2 separate regions of the Homo sapiens genome follow, and region 1 is linked to region 2. Evidence: fine-mapped expression QTL. A gene starts in region 2. The other region holds a variant in brackets. All regions are shown on one strand. Distances are from middle to middle.

Region 1 (11,725 bases), 350 kb after region 2:
CACTTCACCTATAAACACACACAGACTGAAACTAAAAGGGTGGAAAAAGATATTCCATGCCAATGGAAACAAAAAGAGCAGGAGTAGCTATACTTAGACAAAATAGACTTCAACACAAAAACTGTAAGAAAAGAAAAAGAAGGTCATTATATAATGATAAAAGGTTCAATTCAGGAAGAGGGTATAACAATTATAAATAGGTGTAACCAATATTGGAGCACCCAGATATAAAAAGCAAATATTATTAGAGATAAAGAAACAGACCTCAGGAAAATAACAGCTGGAGAGTTCAACAGCCCACTTTCGTCATAGGACAGATCTCCCATATAGAAAATCAACAAAGAAACATCAGACTTAATATGCACTATAGACCAAATGATCCCGATAGATATTTACAGGACATTTCATCCAATGGCTGCAGAATACACAGAATACACATTCTTTTCCTCAGCACATGGATCATTCTCAAGGACAGACCACATGTTAGGTCACAAAACAAGTTTTAAAACATTCAAAAAATTTGAAATAATATCAACTATCTCCTCCAACCACAATGGAAGAAAACTAGAAATTAAAACAAGAGGAATTTTGGAAACTAAACAGACACATAGAAATTAAACAATATGCTCCTGAATGACCAACGGGTCATGAAGAAATTAAGAGGGAAATTATAAAATTTCTTGAAACAAATGATAATGGAAACACAACATACCAAAACCTATGGGATACAGCAAAAGCAGTACTAAAAGGGAAACTTATAGTTTTAAGTGCCCACATCAAAAAAGAATTAAAACTTCAAATAAAAAAACCCAATAGTGTGTCTTAAAGAACTAGGAAAGGAAAGCAAGAGCAAACCAAACCCAAAACTAGTAGAAGAAAAAATAATAAAGTTCAGAGCAGAAATAAATGAAATTGAAACAAGGAAAATACAAAAGATCCATTAAAAAGTTTGCTTCTTGAAAAGACAAAATAGATTAACCTTTAGCCAGATTAAGAAAAAAGAGAGAAGACACAAATAAATAAAATAGAGATGAAAAGGGAGACATTACAACTGAGACTGTAGAAATTCAAAGGATCGTTAGTGGCTACTATGAGCAACTAAATCCCAGTAAATTAAAAAATCTGGAATAAATGAACAAATTCCTAGACACATACAACCTACAATGGCTGAACCAGGAACAAATCCAAACCCTGAACAGACCAATAATAAGCAACAAGATCAAAACTATAATAAAGAAATCTCGCAGTAAAGAAAGGCTGTGTACCTGATGGCTTCACTGCTGAATTCTACCAGGCATTTAAAGAAGAACTAATAACAATGTTACTATTTTGAAAAATAGAGGAGGAAATACTTCCAAACTCATTCTACGATGCCAGTATTACCCTGATACCAAAACCAGACAAAGACACATCAAGAAAAGAAAACTGCAGGCCAATATCACTGATGAATATTGATACAAAAATCCTCAACAAAATACTAACAAACCAAATTCAACAACACATTAAAAATATAATTCCTCATGACCAAGTGGGGTTTATCCCAGGGAAGCAAGGATAGTTCAACATGTGCAACTCAATCAATGTGATAGATCATATCAACAGAATGAAGAACAAAAACCATTTCAATTGATGCTGAAAAAGCATTTGATAAAATTTCACATCCCTTTATGGTAAAAATCCTCAAAAACCTATGTATAGAAGGAACATACCTCAACACAATAAAGCCATATACAAAAGACATATACCTAGTATCACACTAAAGGAAGAAACACTGAAAGCCTTTTCTCTAAGATCAGGAACATGATAAGGAAGCCCATTTTTACCACTGTTACTCAGCATGGTACTGAAAGTCCTAGCTAGATCAGTAAGACAAGAGAAAAAAACACAGGGTATCCGAATTAGAAAGGAAGGAGTCAAATTACCCTTGTTTGCAGATGATATGATCTCATATTTGGAAAAACCTAAAGACTCTCTCAAAAAAATATTAGAACTGGTAAGCAAATTCAGTAAATTTACAGGATACAAAATCAATATAGAAAAATTAGTAGCATTTCTAAATGCCAAGAGTGAACAATCTGAAAAAGAAATCAAGAAAGTAGTACCATTTATGATAGCTACAAATTAAATAAAATACCTAGAAATTAACCAAAAAAGTGAAAGATTTCTACAATGAAAACTATAAAACACTGGTGCAAGAAATTGAAGAGGACACAAAAAGATGGAACGATATCCCATGTTCATGGACTGGAAGAATGAATATTGTTAAAATGTCCATACTATCCAAAGCAATCTACAGATTCAATGCACTCCCTATCAAAATACTGATGACATTCTTTACAGAAATAGAAAAAAAATCCTAAAATTTATATGGAATCACAAAATGCCCAGAATAGCCAAATCTATCCTAATCAAAAGGAACAAAACTGGAGGAATCACATTACCTGACTTCCAAATTATACTATAGAGCTATAGTAACAAAAACAGCATGGTATTGGCATAAAGGCAGACACATAGACCAGTGGAATAGAATACAGAACCTAGAAATAAATCCGTACATCTACAGGGAACTCATTTTCAACAACAATGCCAAGAACATACATTAGGGAAAGGATGATTTCTTCTATAAATGGTGCTGGAAAAACTGGATATCCATATGCAAAAGAGTGAAACCCAATCCCTATCTCTCACCATATACAAAACCAAAATGGATGAAAGACTTAAATCTAAGACCTCAAACTATGAAACTACTGAAAGAAAACATTGGGGAAACTCTCCAGGACACTGGACTGGGCAAAAATTTCTTGAGTAATGCTCCACAAGCACAGGCAACCAAAACAGAAGTGGACAAATGAGATCACATCAAGTTAAAAAGCTTCTGCACAGTAAAGGAAACAGTCAACAAAGCAAAGAGAAAACCCACAGAATGGGAGAAAATATTTGCAAACTATCCATCTGATAAGGGATTAATAACCAGAACATATAAGGAGCACAAACAACACTATTAAATCTAATAATCTAATTTAAAAATGGGTGAAAGAGTTGAGTAAAAAATTCTCAAAAGAAGACATACAAATGGAAAACAGATATATGAAAAGGTGCTCAACATCATTGAGAAATGCATATCAAAACTACAATGAGATATCATCTCACTCTCATTAAAATGGCTTTTATCCAAAAGACAGGCAACAACAAATGCTGGCGAGGATGTGAAGAAAATGGAACCCTTGTATGCTGTTGGTGGGAATGTAAATTAGTACAACCACTGTGGAGAACAGTTTGGAGGTTCCTCAAAAAATTAAAAATAGCACTACCATATGACCCAGCAATCCCACTCCTAGGTATATACCCAAAAGAAAGGAAATCAGTATATCAAAGAGATATCTACACTCCCGTGTTTATTGTAGCACTAGTCACAATAGCCAGGAATTGGTAGCAATCCATTAGCAGATTAATGGATAAAGAAAACGGGTTACATATACAAAATGGAGTATTATTAAACCATTAAAAAGAATGAGATTCTGTTATTTACAACAGTGTGGATGGAACTAGAGGTCATTGTGTTAAGTTAAATAAGCCAGACACAGAAAGACAAACTTTGCATGTTTTCACTTATTTGTGGGAGCTAAAAATTAAAACAATTGAACTCATGGAGATAGATGGTAAAGGGATGGTTACCATAGGCTTGTAAGGGTAGTGGAGGAGGGAGGGAAGTGGGGATGGTTAATGAGTACAAAAAAAATAGAAAGAATGAATAAGACCTAAGGTTTGCTAGCCCAACAGGGTGACTATAGTCAAAAATAATTCAATTGTACAGTTTTAAATAACTAAAAGAGTATAATTGGATTGTTTGTAACACAAAAAATAAATGCTTGAGGTGACAGACACCCCATTTACACCCCATGTGATTATGATACATTGCATGCCTGTACCCCATGCCTGTACAAAATATCTCATGTACCCCATAAATATATACATCTACTATGTAGCCAAAAAAATTAAAAGTTAATTTTTTTTAATTTGTACCTTTTTTCATTTTCTTATATAGGCATTTAAAGCTATAACTTTCTAACTATAACTTTCATTGCTTCTCATACAATATTTAATGGATGAATTTAATTAATATTAACATTCAGTTTTAAATATTTTCTAATTTTCATTATTTTTTTGCTTGACTCATGAGTTGTTTAGACGTGTGTTGATTTAATTTCAAATCCATGTGGGATTCTTTTTGTTGTCTTTTAATTTAAATTATTAATTTAATTGCATTATAGTCAGATACTGCCTCTTCCCAAATCTTCCTGTGCTCTCCTTCTAGAAGGCCTATGAAACATATATTGAATCTTATGCTCTCCAACATGTCTCTTAACTTCTTTTTCATATCTTCTATCATTTTCTTTTCAGTGCCTTCTGGTTGATTTCTTCAAATTATATTACAGTCTACTAATTTTCTCTCCAGCTATATCTAATTTGTTTAACCTATGATAAATTATTAATTTCAATTACTTTAGTTTTCACCTTTATAAAGTGTGTTCTTTTTTTAACCTTATTTTTTCTTATATTTATAATTCATTTATGTCTCTATCATTTTCAATATTCATTTTTCATAGTCTATGTGATAGTTCCATCACTTTTAGGTCTTATTCTAATCCTGCTCTTTGTGTTTGCTAACTCTCACTTGTGGGGGATTTTGTTCTTATGTTTTATAGTTTGAGGTTGTGAGTTAATCTTTAGAAGATATTTATGTTTAGGAATCTTGTGAAACTTGGTTGAATGGTATCTTTCTCCTAAGAAGTTTGTAACAGATTCTGCCAGGTGCTTTAGAAGTATCAGTAATCTGGGCTCTCTGTAGTTAATTTTTCAAGTTGTGATTTTTCCATACTACACAAGTAGTACAAATTCAATTCCCAAACCTAAATGAGGTACAAATCCATAGAGATGTGTTTTTGAAGGAGACATTCTTTTTCTAAGACACAGCTTCCTTGTCTCTTCTGTTCTGATGATTTTTTTTCAGTCCTTTCCATTCCAAGGTCACAACTTTGTACTGAAGATCTCTGTTCCAACCCACAGAACCTCAATTTTCCATTTCATATCTCAAGCCCTTTGTTAGTGAGACTAATAATACTGTCCCAAAGGCAGCCACAGTATCAATTCAAGTGTTTATCCCTGGAGTTTTCAATTCAACCTTTACTTCTGACCCATAGTAATGATTTTATTTCCTTTCAAGATTAGACATGCAGTATTTCTAAGCATCCGTAGCAGGGATGATAGTAAGATTATTAGCCATGTTTCTAGAACTGTTAGTAAAAAGTAACTTATTTTCTCTAGTAAAAATCAACTTACAGCACAATTGGCAAGCTGAATCCTTGTAATTTACCAATTATGAAACTTTTTCAGTTCACAATTATATTATCCAAAGCTTGTTTGATCCCACTTGGTCCCAGTTTCAGAAAACCACATGGAAAAAAATATATAATAATTATAGGTGCATACATAGCCCCTAGCTACAACTAGAAACATTACACTGAACTTTACATGGATCCAAATAAATCCTTTAATTTTCTGGATTCCCTCTGAAGCCCATCCCATCACCTTTTTCTAGAGTCCTCTAGTGCTTCCTCTCTCTCCTCTCCCTCTCTCTCACACACACACACAAGACAGAGACAGAGAAAGGGAGAGAGATCATTTTTCATATAAGTGTTCACTGCTTACTGTCAACAAGTTATATGGCTTTTCTTCTTCCTTTCCATTAATTCAATACAACTTGTCTAAGTTCCTGCTGTGCTCTAGACATTGGAGATGTTGCCAAAAACAAAACAAAACCTTTGACCCACAGGGTTTCAATCATAGTATAGAAGAAATACAAATAATAAACAAATTAATAAATATATTTTAGTTTGAACCAAATGAAATGGCCAATATTCAGCTGTTCTTGATCCACCCAAAAGCAATTTCATATGGTTCAACTTGATAGAATATGACAGGTGGTGCTACGTGCTGTGAAGAAGATAGGGTAAGTGGAGAGAAAGTCATGGGTGCATGTGAGTGTGCTATTTTAGATAGCATGGCCACAGAACCTCTCTTTTTAAGTGCTATTTGAACAGATGATAATGGAGTGAGAAAGTGTGTAATACGGATATCTGGGGGAAGAATATTCTAATCAGAAATGAAGGTGGAAAGGCCCTGAGGAGGGATGGCATATAAAAGAGCAGCAAGGAAACAGAGGGACCTGAAGGGAGCGAGTGACAGTAAGAGTGGTGCAAGATAAGGACAGAGAAGGTCAGGGCCAGGCCCAAGAATGCCATGTCAGCCATGGCAAGACATTTGATCTCACTCCTCATGAGTTGGGAAGCTGTTGGCAGGTTTGGGCAGAGGAGAGGCAAAATCAGACTTGTATTTTCAAGGATGTGGAGGCCAGCCTCCAAGGAGCAAGATGAACAGAAGGGGCTTAGGTAGGAGATGACTGCTTTCATGCAAGAGTGAGACCATGGTAACAGACTCAGGTGGTAGCAAAGGAAATAGGACAGACTGGACCTTCACAATTCTTTCATGACCTCTCTTATCTTTCTTTTTAAAAAGTATATTTGTCTTATCAATTTCTTATTCCCAAACAAGTATATTTCCAAGCTTCCACTTCTTGCCCTTGGTTGGTATTGGTGTCAAAATCATTTTGCCTGCCTGCTTCGATAGCCTGCTTTCCAACAGGAAACTTCTAAATCTCTTTACATTCAGTGC[T/C]CCAAAAATATACATTTGCACTTCCCATAGCCTGACACATCTGCATCATCCCTTTTGTTCCTAATCACTCTCAGAACAACAGCAGCATACCTGATTGAGGAGCAGCTGGCATTCACTGCGCAAAGAGCACCATCAAAAATTGAGCATGTGGCTCCAAGAGCCACCACTGTTTCCTTCTGTTTCTTGCCAAAGACTGTAACTTGTGGGTAGGCTGGGCCTGAGTGATAGCAGGAAATGGCCCACTGCCATGCAAAGTGGCTCCTCTGAAAAAACTTTTAACCATATCCCTGCAGCTGGACCCCTTCCTCTGAAGTTTCTAGATATTGCAACTCCCCAAAGAGGAAGTTGTCTAAGGGAGGTACAATGCTTTAGGGAGAAACTGACCACAGCTTAATGGCTTGTGAATGCAACCACTGCAACTTCTGGGCCCATTTCCCTCTCATGCCCACACAGGGCTGGGTGTGTTCTATTAAACATTTAGGTAAAAGGAATAAGTAACTAGCTCAGCAATGTCAGCATCATGTCACCATGGCATGACAGAAACTCAGTTTTCTGACTCTTAGTGAAATGGATCATTCAAGAGTAAAGCATTAAAATGTTTATAAAATACAGTTGGTCCAAGAGGACAAGTTGTGTCAAAATCATTTTCCAAGACACCTCATGTTTTAAAAAATCCTAACATGTAGCCTGCATGCAATATGCAAACAGGCTGCTAAGGAGAGGACATGACATTAAAATGTCAGTAGAATTACTGCTCAGCTGTAAGAACTCACACACTTTAGATTTAACAGCAGTGAGTTTACATTGGGTCACAAGAAATAGGATTTAAATGAATATTCCAAACCTATTTTCTGAAAATGCATTTTGCAAAGATACAGGTAGGCATACCTACTTCTGAAAAAAAATTCATTTGCAATAGAAAATGGGATGAGAAAACAGAAATAAAATGTATTCATCACCCTTGTCACTCCTCTATTTTAAATAAAGCAGAAACCACACATAACATTCCAGGATATTAAGCTAGGTATGAAATGATGTTCAGACTACTAAGGCTAAAGATTACAGCCATAATTCAATCTGATATTAAATGCATTTATGATGCCATATAATGTGGGAGACATTTAAAATGACTACCAAAATTTCTACTAATATGACCTTTTCTTGAATTTTATTGTTAAAAATCCTTTTCTGCCAAAATGTCAAGGTTTCTCACAGTGCTTCTACATACACTGTAACCCCAGTAATAGAAAATGTATATTTTCTGTAGACACTGGGGCTATCATCAGACAAATTTATTCTGCTGAAACTGGAGTCAACATTAAAAGAGTTTTTTGCAGCATAGGTATTTTTTCACTTATAAGTTATTACTCATTTTTCCTAATACTGTGCAGATAATATAACAACAATATTGAAGGTTTTTTTTAATATTTGAAAATTCATTGCACATAAAAGCATGCTATGCTATTGTTCCTGTTTTAGGTCCCCAGTCCCTGATCAAAGATGATATACATCTCTAGAGGCAGCTAGGAGGTGTCTCTAAGCTGGTAATAGTCGGGGTTGGATTTGTCTCAAAGCAGCAAAAACTTGTAAAGATGGTTCTGCATCCCTAAGCCTTCTCTATCTGATAACTTTGATTATTTTCAAGTATAATCATGTGCCATATAATGACATTTAGGTCAACAATGGACCACATACTACAGTGGTCCCATTAGATTATAACGAAGCTGAAAAATTCCTATAGCCTAGTTATTAATATACCATAGGCATAGTAATGTCATAATGGAAAGCAGTACTTATATGTTTGTAGCAATGTTGGCATAAAAAACCTACTGTGCTGTCATTCATATAAATTAGAGCACACACAATTATGTGTACTACATAATACATGATAACAATAACAAATAATGGTTACTAATTTATGTGTTTACTATACTTTTTATCATTACTTTAGAGTGTGGTCCTTCTACTTATTAAAAAAATAGTTAACTGTAAAACAGCCTCAGGTAGGCATATCAAGAGGTATTCCATAAGAAGGCATGGTCATCAGAGACGATGGCAGCTCCTTGCATGTTATTGCCCCTGAAAATCTTCAGTAAGACAGGGTATGAAGGTGAAAGACAGTGATATTGTTGATACTGACTCTATGTAGGCCTAGACTAATATGTGTATTTGTATCTTAGTTGTTAAGAAAAAAGTTCAAAAAATAAAAGAGATAACTAGACATTTTTTAATAAGAAGCTTATATAATAAGGATACAGAGAAAGGAAAGAGAAAGGAAATATTTTTGTACAGCTATATGGTGCTTTACGTTTTAAGTAGTGTTATTACAGGAGTCAAAATTGTTAAAGATAAAAATTAGCTATTAATTTTTTATTGAAGAAAGAAATTTTCTTAACTTTTAAGTTTAGGGGTACATGTGCAGGTTTGTTATATAAGTAGACTCATGTCATGGGGGTTTGGTGTACAGATTATTTCATCACCAGGCATTAAGCCTGGTACCTGCTGGTTATTTTCCTGATCCTCTCCCCCTTCCCACTGTCCATCTTCTAGTCGGCCCCAGTGTTTGTTGTTCTCCTCTATGAGTCCATGTGTTCTCATCATTTAGCTCCCACTTGTAAGTGAGAACATGCAGTATTTGGTTTTCCGTTTCTGCATTAGTTTGTTAAGGATAATGGCTTCCAGCTCCATCTATATTCCCGCAAAGGACATGATCTCATTCTTTTGTATGGCTGCATAGTATTCCATGGTGTATATGTACCACTTTTTATTTATCCAATCTACTATTATCGATGGGCATTTAGGTTGATTCCATATCTTTGCTATTATGAATAGTGCTACAATGAACATATGACTACCTGTGTCTTTATGATATAATAGAATGATTTATATTCCTTTGGGTATATACTCAGTAATAGGATTGCTGGGCCGAATGGTAAAAAAGATATTTTTGTAAATTTAGTGTACCGTTAAGTGTACAGTGTTTATAAAGTCTATAGTAGTGTATAGTAATGTTCTGGGCCTTTATATTCATTCACCACTCACTCACTCAGAGCAGCTTCTACTCCTGCAAGCTTCATTCATGGTAAGTGTCCTATACAGAGGTCACTTTTTTTCCTCTTTTATTTTGTATTTTTACTGTGCTTTTTCTGTGTTTACATATGCTTAGATACAAAAATGCTTGCCATTGTGTTACAATTGCCCACAGTGTTCAGTGCAGTAGCAAGCTGTACAGGTTTGTAGTCTAGGAGCAATAGAATATACCATATAACCTAGGTGTATACTAAGCTATACCACCCAGGTGTATCTAAGTACACTCTACAATGTTTGCACAATGACAAAATTGCCTAATGATATATTTCTCAGATTGTATGCCTCTCATTAAGTGATGCATGACTGTATTTAGGTTAGATGGATATGTAAGCTAAAAATACATGGGGGTGGAGAATTTTGCATTAATGTACTTTTTAAACAAAGAAATATATATTTATCATTTATGGATGAAATAGTTTCTTTTTAAAAATGCCATTCCAATTGGCACAATTAATATTCAAAATTTCACAGCACACTTTTTTACTTTTTTTTTTTTTTTTGGTCAAACATTAGCTATAGACTCACTCCAGTTTATTTAGAGTCTTTCTAAATATGTTTTAAAATACCTGAAGTTCTACAAAAAGTGGGGAGCCTTTCAAATGCATGATAAACTAGGGTCAGTAGGTTTTGGAGAGTTGAAAGACATTTGAAAATATGGTAGTGGCAATGGCAGGGGTATGGGCTGATAATGAGACGGATAGAAATGAAGGATGCTACACCATTCAGGATTAAAATTCAACATTAGTTCAAGTTTTAAGACTTTTACTCCTATGGAAAGAGTGGGGAATTGGAGTAAAATCCAAGAGAGCAGGAACTGTCTAGAAGAAAATTAGCCTGCCCAATCTCTTTGGCTTGTTTCCTCCTCCTCATGGATCCCTCTCTATTGATAAATTTTAAGTAGTGCCTATACCACACATAGGCTCCATTTTCCATCCCATGCCACATCTCGAGGGAAGAGCTATAGGAATAATACACATAAACTAGAGTGGAATTTTGATTCCTACCACTTGGAACTTGACTAGAATGTTGAACAAACCAGATCCCATTTGGTGACTGTATACATTGGTGGAGGAAGTCAATGCTTTGAAAGGCCAATAATCACTGGACTGAAGAAACAATTTACCAGCAACGGTCACTATTAGTTATGGACAGCACAAAAAAGACCAAAGAACATCAGTACCCAAGGCCAATTTATGGAAACTAACTGAATGGCACAAAATCAACCAGAAGGAGCCCACGGTTCTGCTGACGGCAGTTGCTCTGCAGGTTTCAACCATTTAATTTTTGATCTGAGCTCCTACAGCACAGGCTCTTTGCACCTTGCCCTAGAGAATCTGAGTAAATGCGTTTTTATTTTTAGATGTTTTCTCTCTTGACATAGGGTTCCACAAATATGAAAGAGCAAGTCATCCCCCAGGCATGCTAGAAGTTGTTGTTGTCTCTTTTCTCTCCCTCTGTGGTCTCCTGCAATCACTTAAAATAATAATGTGCCAAGAAATGTTTTCCTACAGAACAGGCCACTTCTCTTGACTGGCCCTAAAATGTATGTGTGTTAAAAGGATTGAGTCTTCTTTGGAATATTAGGTTGTCCCTTTTTGATGAATTGAAAGGTGTTCCAGACTTGAGAGGCTATCTCAATTTTACAGTAAACAGCTATTTTATGAGAAAGGAAAAAAATTCCATGAGGTGTTTTTACCAAAAACGCGATTATTACCAGCCTAACAAAAGAATCCATTGTGAGGAGAAAAAGCACAGCCAACTTAATTAATATCATTTACAATCTTTACAGATGCTCACACAATGCCACATACTTCTCATGTCTACAATGAGTACTAAAGTCAAGAGTATGAAATCAAAAGGAGCTAAATGTCTTCACAGCTTCTAAAATAATAATTCAAAATGG
Region 2 (8,000 bases):
CGATATAAACTTCACGTTGGTTTCATGTATTTCTTGATGCTGTCAACAGGCCCAGGTTCTGCACACATTTATTTAAGGTGGGCTCACCACCTTTGATGAGGCAGGAGACTTGGGTTTCAGTCTTAGCTCTAGCACTCACAGTCTATGTGATACTGAACAAATTGCTCGCATCTTCTGGGGCTCAGCATTCTTGTCTATCAAATAGAGATAATACCATCTCATCTCAGTGTTGTTGTAGGATTCAAATAAGTTAATAAATGTAAAATTTCTTTGATAATTTAAAAGCATTGTTGCTGTTCTCTTTAAAATAAAAAAGTATTGTTGCTGTTCTCTTTAAAGAATGAAACTAATATCCATGTCCTCCTTAAAGATGTATTTATTTGCAAAAGCAACTCTATTAAGGAAAAACATGACATGCAATGTGTGAGCATGTGGGGAATATGCAAGTATTGTAAAGAATTTTAAGTCTAAGGATCCTTAAATAGAATGACAATGATATATCAGGTGAGCCACAGTGGCAGCTACATATAAATATTATACATCTTAGTTTGCCTGTGAACCATTCAACTAAAAATTTCAAATAGAACAATTAATCAATGTAGAAAGCATAGCAAAAAATAAATTCAAATCAATGATGCAATACCTCTATTCCAATTAGCTTATTTTTCTTTCTTCCACTCTCTCAGGCATATTCTATTTTATTAAAAAATGAAGTCAATTAAGAAACTCTACAAAATCAATCAGCCCACAGATCAAGCTAGAACTCTTGTTCTTATTTAATGTTTATTAAGGGCTCATCATCACACGGTATTTTTCTATTAATAGGTCAAATATACAAAGTATCAGGCTTGCCTTCATTCTATCATTGGGGTCCTACATAGTGTCGTGCTCAACCAAAGGGGAGAGAGAAGGACATCCACCTCTTCAAACAAAGGGTCTTAGCAGTCTTGGCTGAAAAATGAAACTTTTATATTAATTTATGGAAGTCTGCAGTCTTTGATCTGAATTGAGGTTATTAATTACAATTCTTATTCTTCCCATCCAACAGGTACAAGAACATCTCCAACAAGGTACCTAAGGGTGTGAGCCAGGCAAAGGGCTAAGAGCATATATGCAAGCTGAAATGATGTGTACACATCAGGGTTATGATAGTTTGGCTGGATTCCCTTGTACATAGTGTATACAACAGAGAGACATGCTCACACACACACACACACACAAAACTCAAACACACATTTGAACACCATTATGATTTTCTGATCAGTCCAACCTACTGTCAATCAGAGTTGGACAAACAATCCCAGCCCTAGATTTTCCTGTTTCCACACCCAGACCTGATTTACAATTTATAACTGCCCATTGTTCAGACTTGTGGCTTGGAGGTGCAGTACATCGATGCCTGTCCACATCTAAGGTTAGATGACGACCCCTCTACTTTACTATTAGATGTGCCAAGGATCAGCAGCTCCTGAAATCTTTTTCCTGTGCCTGTGTGGGGGAGGGGATTCACGGCGTGGAAGGCCTGGGACAGGGAAGAAAGGAGCTGTCCCTGGGTTATCAGGAAAGGGACCAAACGTGGGCCCCACATCCACCTCCACGCCTGAGTTAAGAATCTGGAGCTGACTCCTCAGAATGGCTGTAATTGGTCCTTTACTCATTTCCTTGGAGAAGCAGCGGTCAACTTCTACTAAAACTCCCGGTTGATAGGCGGCTTCCCTGCCCTGTCTTCCGGAGCACTTACGTTAAGGGGAAATCACTATAATCAAATCTCTACGTCTTGCCTGCTGCTAAAACAAGGCGCTTTCTTCCTGGGATTTTGCAGGGACGACTGATACACACACGGTCTCCCTACACACAAGCTCGCACACACCGACACAGTGTAACTCCCACAGCGTCCTCGCTCCTTCTCCCTCCCTCACCCCCTTGTCTCTCTCAAGGATTGCTGAACATTTTGCTCCAAACTCTCCAAGTCACCCACGTGTTCTCCCCTTTTGCTATTCAATTTACTTCTCCACCTGACGAAGAGAAATGCGAGTTGTTCTTAGGCTTTTAGCTGCAATCCTGGGACCAGGCTTTCTCACTCCCCCCTCCTCCCCAGTCAGAGCAGCCCCACCGACCCTCTTCCCAATAGGGTGAGTGGACAGATGCTGGGTGCTTTCGCTGGTCAAATCCCGCAAAACCTTCACCTTCTCTTCTTCTCCACCCAGAGCAAACTGATTTTGCCTGTTTAGTCTCACTAGCCAGGGTGGTATGGAAGTGGGTGGGGAGAGGGCTGGTGCGTGGCACAGATAACTGGGAAGCGCGCGCACCACACACACACACACACACACACACACACACACACACACACACGGCCCCAGTTAACATTTATGCAGTACTTTTGGGGGGTCTCTTACACACACCTGAATAGCATACTCTCAATAAAGGATAGGCACACCCCTGTTTGTCCTCCCCCAATTTCCAGACTAGCATTTTACCCTGGGTCTAGAATTGGTGGTGATAAGCCGACTTAGATGGAGTATTTGAGAAAAGGGGAGGTGACCCTTTGCCTGAATGGGGGAGGGGGCGCTCTCCACTCACCGCCTGAGTCCCTGGAACGAGGAGGGCCAGGACATCCTGGATTTCTTCAGGCCGGGCCGGTGGCCGGTCTCCACCGCGTAGGAGGTGCGGTCCATGGCGCGACAGTACAGGTAGCGCTCGGTGTCCGAGTAGCCGCGATGCCGGACGCGGCCGGTGGCCCCGCTCGAGGCGTAGCGGCCGCGGGCAGCCCCGGGCGGCGGCGGGGGCGGCGGCAGGGGGGGCGGCGGCGGCGGCTGTAGCGGACACTGGGGCTGGGGCTGGGGCGAGGGTGGCGGCGGCGGGGGCAGGTGGTGATGGGGATGCAGGAGGCGGAACTGGGGCTGCCGGAGCGGGTACTGGTGGTGCTGCTCGTGCCTCCAGAGATGCTTGGGGGCTTTGAGCGTGGCCCCGCCGGCGCTGTCGCTGCCCTCTCCGCTGCCCGCCCGGGCCGGCGCGCTGCTGCCCTCTGCCTCCATCCTGGCTCGCGGCTCCGCGACCTGCTGCCCAGCCCGGGTTCACCGCGCTGGCCCGAGCGCCTTCCTGATGCTGCTGCTGCTGCTGCCGCCGCCGCCGCTTCTGCAGCCCAGCAGAGGCTGGTGCTTAGCTTCTCACTTGAAGGCGCCAGAGCCTCAGGGCTACCGAGAGGGGGCCCTGCCAGCGGGAGGGGTCACAGAACGCGGCAGGGCTCCTTCCACCGAGGCTATGGCAGAGACACGCTCCCGGGCTCCCCAAGTCACCAAGACTAGGGTGCGCGGTGCCCGGTTTCGCCAGAGGTTGGTCCTTCTTCCTCCCTTTCTTCTTCCCTTCCTTTGGGCGCCGGCGGCGAGAGCAGGGATTGTCAGCAACTCGGGCTGCAGAAGCAGCAGCAACGGCGGCGGCGGCAGTGGTAGCCGCCTCCAGGGCACCGGAACCCTGATCCCGGAGCTGCTGAAAAGTTGGACAGCTCCAGGCTGGCACGCCCGAGCTGTGACTTTCACCAAAACCACTCCAGCCAGTCAGGAGTCAGACCTGTCCTCTTGATCCTTCCCCTCGCCGTGCCCGCGCCTCCCTCCTCCACACTGCTCCCCACTGCCCCGGAGCCTTCCTCTTCACCTCCGCTTGCCTCAGTGCTCTTAGAGAAATGGAGTTTGGCGATTCCTGGCTGGTTCTCAGAGCTTGTTGACGATGAGCCCCATGCTGGTGCTTCCAAAGATAAGGAATGTGACCAGGCAAAGTTGCCTGGAATATTGTCTATGCGCGTCGCTGAAAAATTGGATCTGGGTGAAGATCCAATAGTAAGATTAATTCAGTCTCTTTCCCTGACATAGGATAAAACATTGTGTGGCTCTTTCCCACAGCAGGGAGAATGCCCAATGTTTCCTCTTGAAGATCTTCCTCCAACTTGGCCTCGGGAGTGGTCCTCGCTGGAAATCAAGGCGAGTCGTCCTTAGTTGCAGAGCCATGGCTGAGCCCGCTGGCCAGAGTTAAGGTTAAGGCACCTTTTCAATTACAAACCTCTGATTATCTTCGGTAGTCTCTATCTTCAGTGCCTGCCTGCAATTTGCCTTTCTGCCACTTCCAGCAGAACACAGCTCTATTACTAAAGTGTTTTAAAAACATGTTGTATCAATATTCACAGAAATTAGAGTCCTATGAGGCACTAGAATCCAAATTCAACTTTTGTCTTCCTTTAATTAGCATTTTCCTGCAGTGTCAAATGTTTTTTAAAGAAGCCAAGAGGATTTCAGGGCAATATATAGACACTTTTTTCCCTGTACCTTTTTTATTTGACCATATTACTTAAAGATGAAATGCAATTTGCTTACTGTTAAAATAATTCTAGAATTTTTCTTTGTGGAAGTTACCACGTACCATCCATTATTTGAACGATAATATATTTAGGACTCACAACAACTTGTTGGCTGTGTAATTATTCTATTCTTCCCACACACTCAGTCTTAACATATTTTCATATGTACATTTCAAGCATATCATGTAATGGATGCTAGAGTACCAGAATCAGGAACCATGTCTCAAACTCTCTAGACTGCTGAAAATTCAACACTCTCCACACAGTCTAGATGCCACTGGGAAAATAATGCCAATGAAAATAAGTGCTCACTTTGTTTATCAGCAAGAACAGTCCACGAAATGTGCAAGTGGCAGGAGAAGGCCTTCATCATCTCTTCATGCTATTTATTTATTTATGGTTGGAAATATACCTTTCCTCCATCAGTTTAATATGAGCCCTCTGCTCATATGTGGACTATACACAAAATCTGAGAAAGGTTGTGTCTTAAGAGAAACAAGGCAATCTCCTAAGCACCACTCTCCACTGTGTAGGATTAAACCATACTTTACAAAGGCACTCTTTTTGCCCCTTTTGCAGACACAAGTGTGACTGGTGGCAGTGGTCAAAGTATTTACCATGCCTAGGAGGGCACTAAGCCAGTATTTTCCCAAACACAAAAGGAGAGAAATGGAAGTGTTCTGCAGTATAGACTGCCTTTTTCTTTTAATTCATTGCATTATTAACATCCAAAACCATTTTAAAGAAGTACACAAATTTCTTCTTTCCCCTGAAATGCTTGCCACCTTTCGCCTCAATATAACTGTGGCAAAATACCTCTATCCGAAACTCTTATTCTAATTTCTCATACACTAACAGTACAAGTGACTTATAATTTTTTTCCAGATTAAATTGGAATAATTCAAATCCAACCTGATTTTCACCACCAATTTGCTCCTTCCTTTTTACTCATGAAAACTTTATCTTTTATATATTTCCCACTGATTTTTAAAAATTCTTTGTTTTGTTTTTACTATGTAATTGCAAGTCAGGAACATTTTAAAATGTAAGAAAATCATTTAATATGTTTCCAACTTGTAGAGTTTTTAATTTAACTTATAATTCCAAAATGTTATTGATAGTAATAGTTTCTTGTGTGATCTTTGAGGTTACAGCTTGAGTTCCAATCTACCACTTCCTACCCATGTTACTTTAGCTAAATTATTTACCATCCCTGTCTCCCATATGCAAAGTAGTACTAATATTACCTACTTCACAGAATTTTGCAATTATTTAATGAAATAATACTTAGCACAATGCCTTATATGCAATGAATGTTTAATAAAGGTAGCAATTTTTATTATTCCTGCCAGGCTGGGAAGTATCCTAAATATCATGTTAATCAGCAGTTCCCAGTCTTGGCTGTACCTAGGGAATATCACCTGGGGGAGCTTGAAAAAAAATGTCTGATGTTGAACCTAGAGCAGTGATTCCAAACTTTGATGTTATCAGAATCACCAGGAGAGCTAATCCAGCACACAAAGACCCAGGCTCCATGAAGCAGGATAGGGCTTGAGGCTTTATACTTTTACCAAATTTGTGAGAAGATGCTGCTTCAGTGTAAAGTTTGATCATCACTACCCTGCCTAGACAAATAAAATCAGTATTTCTAGGGGAGGATCAAGGCATCGGCATTTTAAAAAACTCTTCATGTGATTTCATACATCAGCAACTACTGATCCAGACTTACTCTCTCATTAAATGGTTGCAAAAACACTGTAGATACTATTAGTTGACTCGCCCTTGTGTCTCAAATACTTCTAGGGAAGTCCAGCTTATAAGCAAAGTTCTCATGAAAATATGCACTTTATGTATTACTCTAGTTGCCTCTATGCTAAAAGAAAATCTTATACTGCTGAATATTGAGCACTCCCAGCCTTCCATTTAAAAACTCTTCTCATTAATCTAGGTATTTCCTACTTTTAATTAAAACAACAAAAATGTAAAATATTCCATCTACCCATTGGTTTTCCCTGCTTATATGTTAAATAAATTATCCATTCTTTTTCCCACTAGTTGACCATAGATTTTGGAGTTTTATGGGCACAGTCTGAGAGAGATTTTTGTGAAGCATTGGGTTAATGTGGGACATCCTGGAAAGCTATCACTACTTACCATTAGCACATCTATATAAAAAGTAAAAATCAGGTAAATGATCAGTATCTTTTTCCTGAACAAACTTAAATAAGCAGTTAGTTGGTGTCATTACCATGCATTATGTCATTACCACCCCCACCCTTTTCTGCAAATGCATTTCAAATCTGTCCAAAAGATACAATCAATCACTCAATGTGCTGCTGGGCAATTAACAAGGGAGAACATTCTTGTCAATAATGATGGAGAGTTCTGGCAGAAGTGATGTCAATTAACAGCTAGCAGAGAGCAAGCACCATTTCTATCCAGAACACAGAGTGAGATGGCAAGTGGCAGTAACTAAGGGTCCATTTCTATCTTGGCAATGGGAGGAGGATTTTTTTTTTTACTTTTTTTATTATACTTTAAGTTATGGGGTCCATGTGCTCAATGTGCAGGTTTGTTACATAGGTATACATGTACCATGTTGGTTTGCTGCACCCATTAACTTGTCATTTACATTAGGTATTTCTCCTAATGCTATCCCTCCTCCAGCATCCCACCCCCCGACAGGCCCCAGTGTGTAATGTTCCCCTCCCTGTGTCCACGTGTTCTCGTTGCTCAAGTCAATGGGAGGAAGATTTAAAGGAGACTTTCACTTTGCATACATTCTATGTATACTTGAGCACATGAGTGCTACTTCATTTGTAAAGATGGTCATCTTGATGCCCAACAGTCAGCTTAAAATCGGAAATTTTCATCATCATATGTGTTACAAAAGGCTAAACTCCTGTCTAATTACATATCCAAAGGCATTGAAAGTCTCAGATTTCACTTAGGTCTTTAATGTTGAGTAGAAACAGGTTCTTAGGATATTTCCTTGAGATATATGAAAGGCTTTTAAATTTGTAAAAACCTATACATATACAAGATAATATTGTCAGTATTGCCAGTACAAGTACTAGTATTAAAGTCTCTATCATATTGTTTCCAACGCAGTATATTAGGCTGCTTTTCAGTAATTTTTGTCTAATATGAAATAAACAGAAATATGCAATTAATATGAAACTAAGAAATGCTGTACTTGAATATCCTTGTCTTTGACTAGCACACTAATGCAAATTTAGCAGCACACTAATTTCCAACTAGTTGGAGGCTCAGTATCACAAAATCAATTTTGTAACTTTCTAATGATACCATTCCACTTGTCAGCTCAAGGTAAAAATATTGCTTATCTACTGTGTGCTAATTCTCAGGACGACTGTGATACTGCATTGACAAACATGCACAAAAAATTACTATCCTCAAGGAGTTTTGTGTCTTGCAGAGGAAATAAATAAATAAGCAACTATAATTTGGGAAGATGGGGGGAAGAGATATACTGATGCGGATATGTAGTGTCTGCTGGAAGAACATTCAACCCTTACAGCTCAGTGAGTCCTCACCAAAGGGAGAGTGGCATCTAATCTGAGGCCAAGACCTCAAGTACACATTGAAATTAGCTATTTTCAGTATGTGTGAATACATATGTGTGACCATG

The links.
Region 1: its variant is fine-mapped to the expression of PDE4D in monocytes (TOPMed, PIP 0.92).

The regions. Positions count from the first base shown.
Region 1 is chr5:60,242,094-60,253,818 of GRCh38, forward strand. It overlaps a transcript of PDE4D not described here. Among named protein-coding and RNA genes, the nearest start is that of PART1, 240 kb to the right of the region's middle. The variant T/C (reference allele first, on the strand shown) is at 6,733.
Region 2 is chr5:59,890,588-59,898,587 of GRCh38, forward strand. PDE4D (phosphodiesterase 4D) reads right to left here and starts at 3,139. Exons shown (of 15, transcript NM_001104631.2): 1 at 2,581-3,139. The coding sequence starts at 3,035.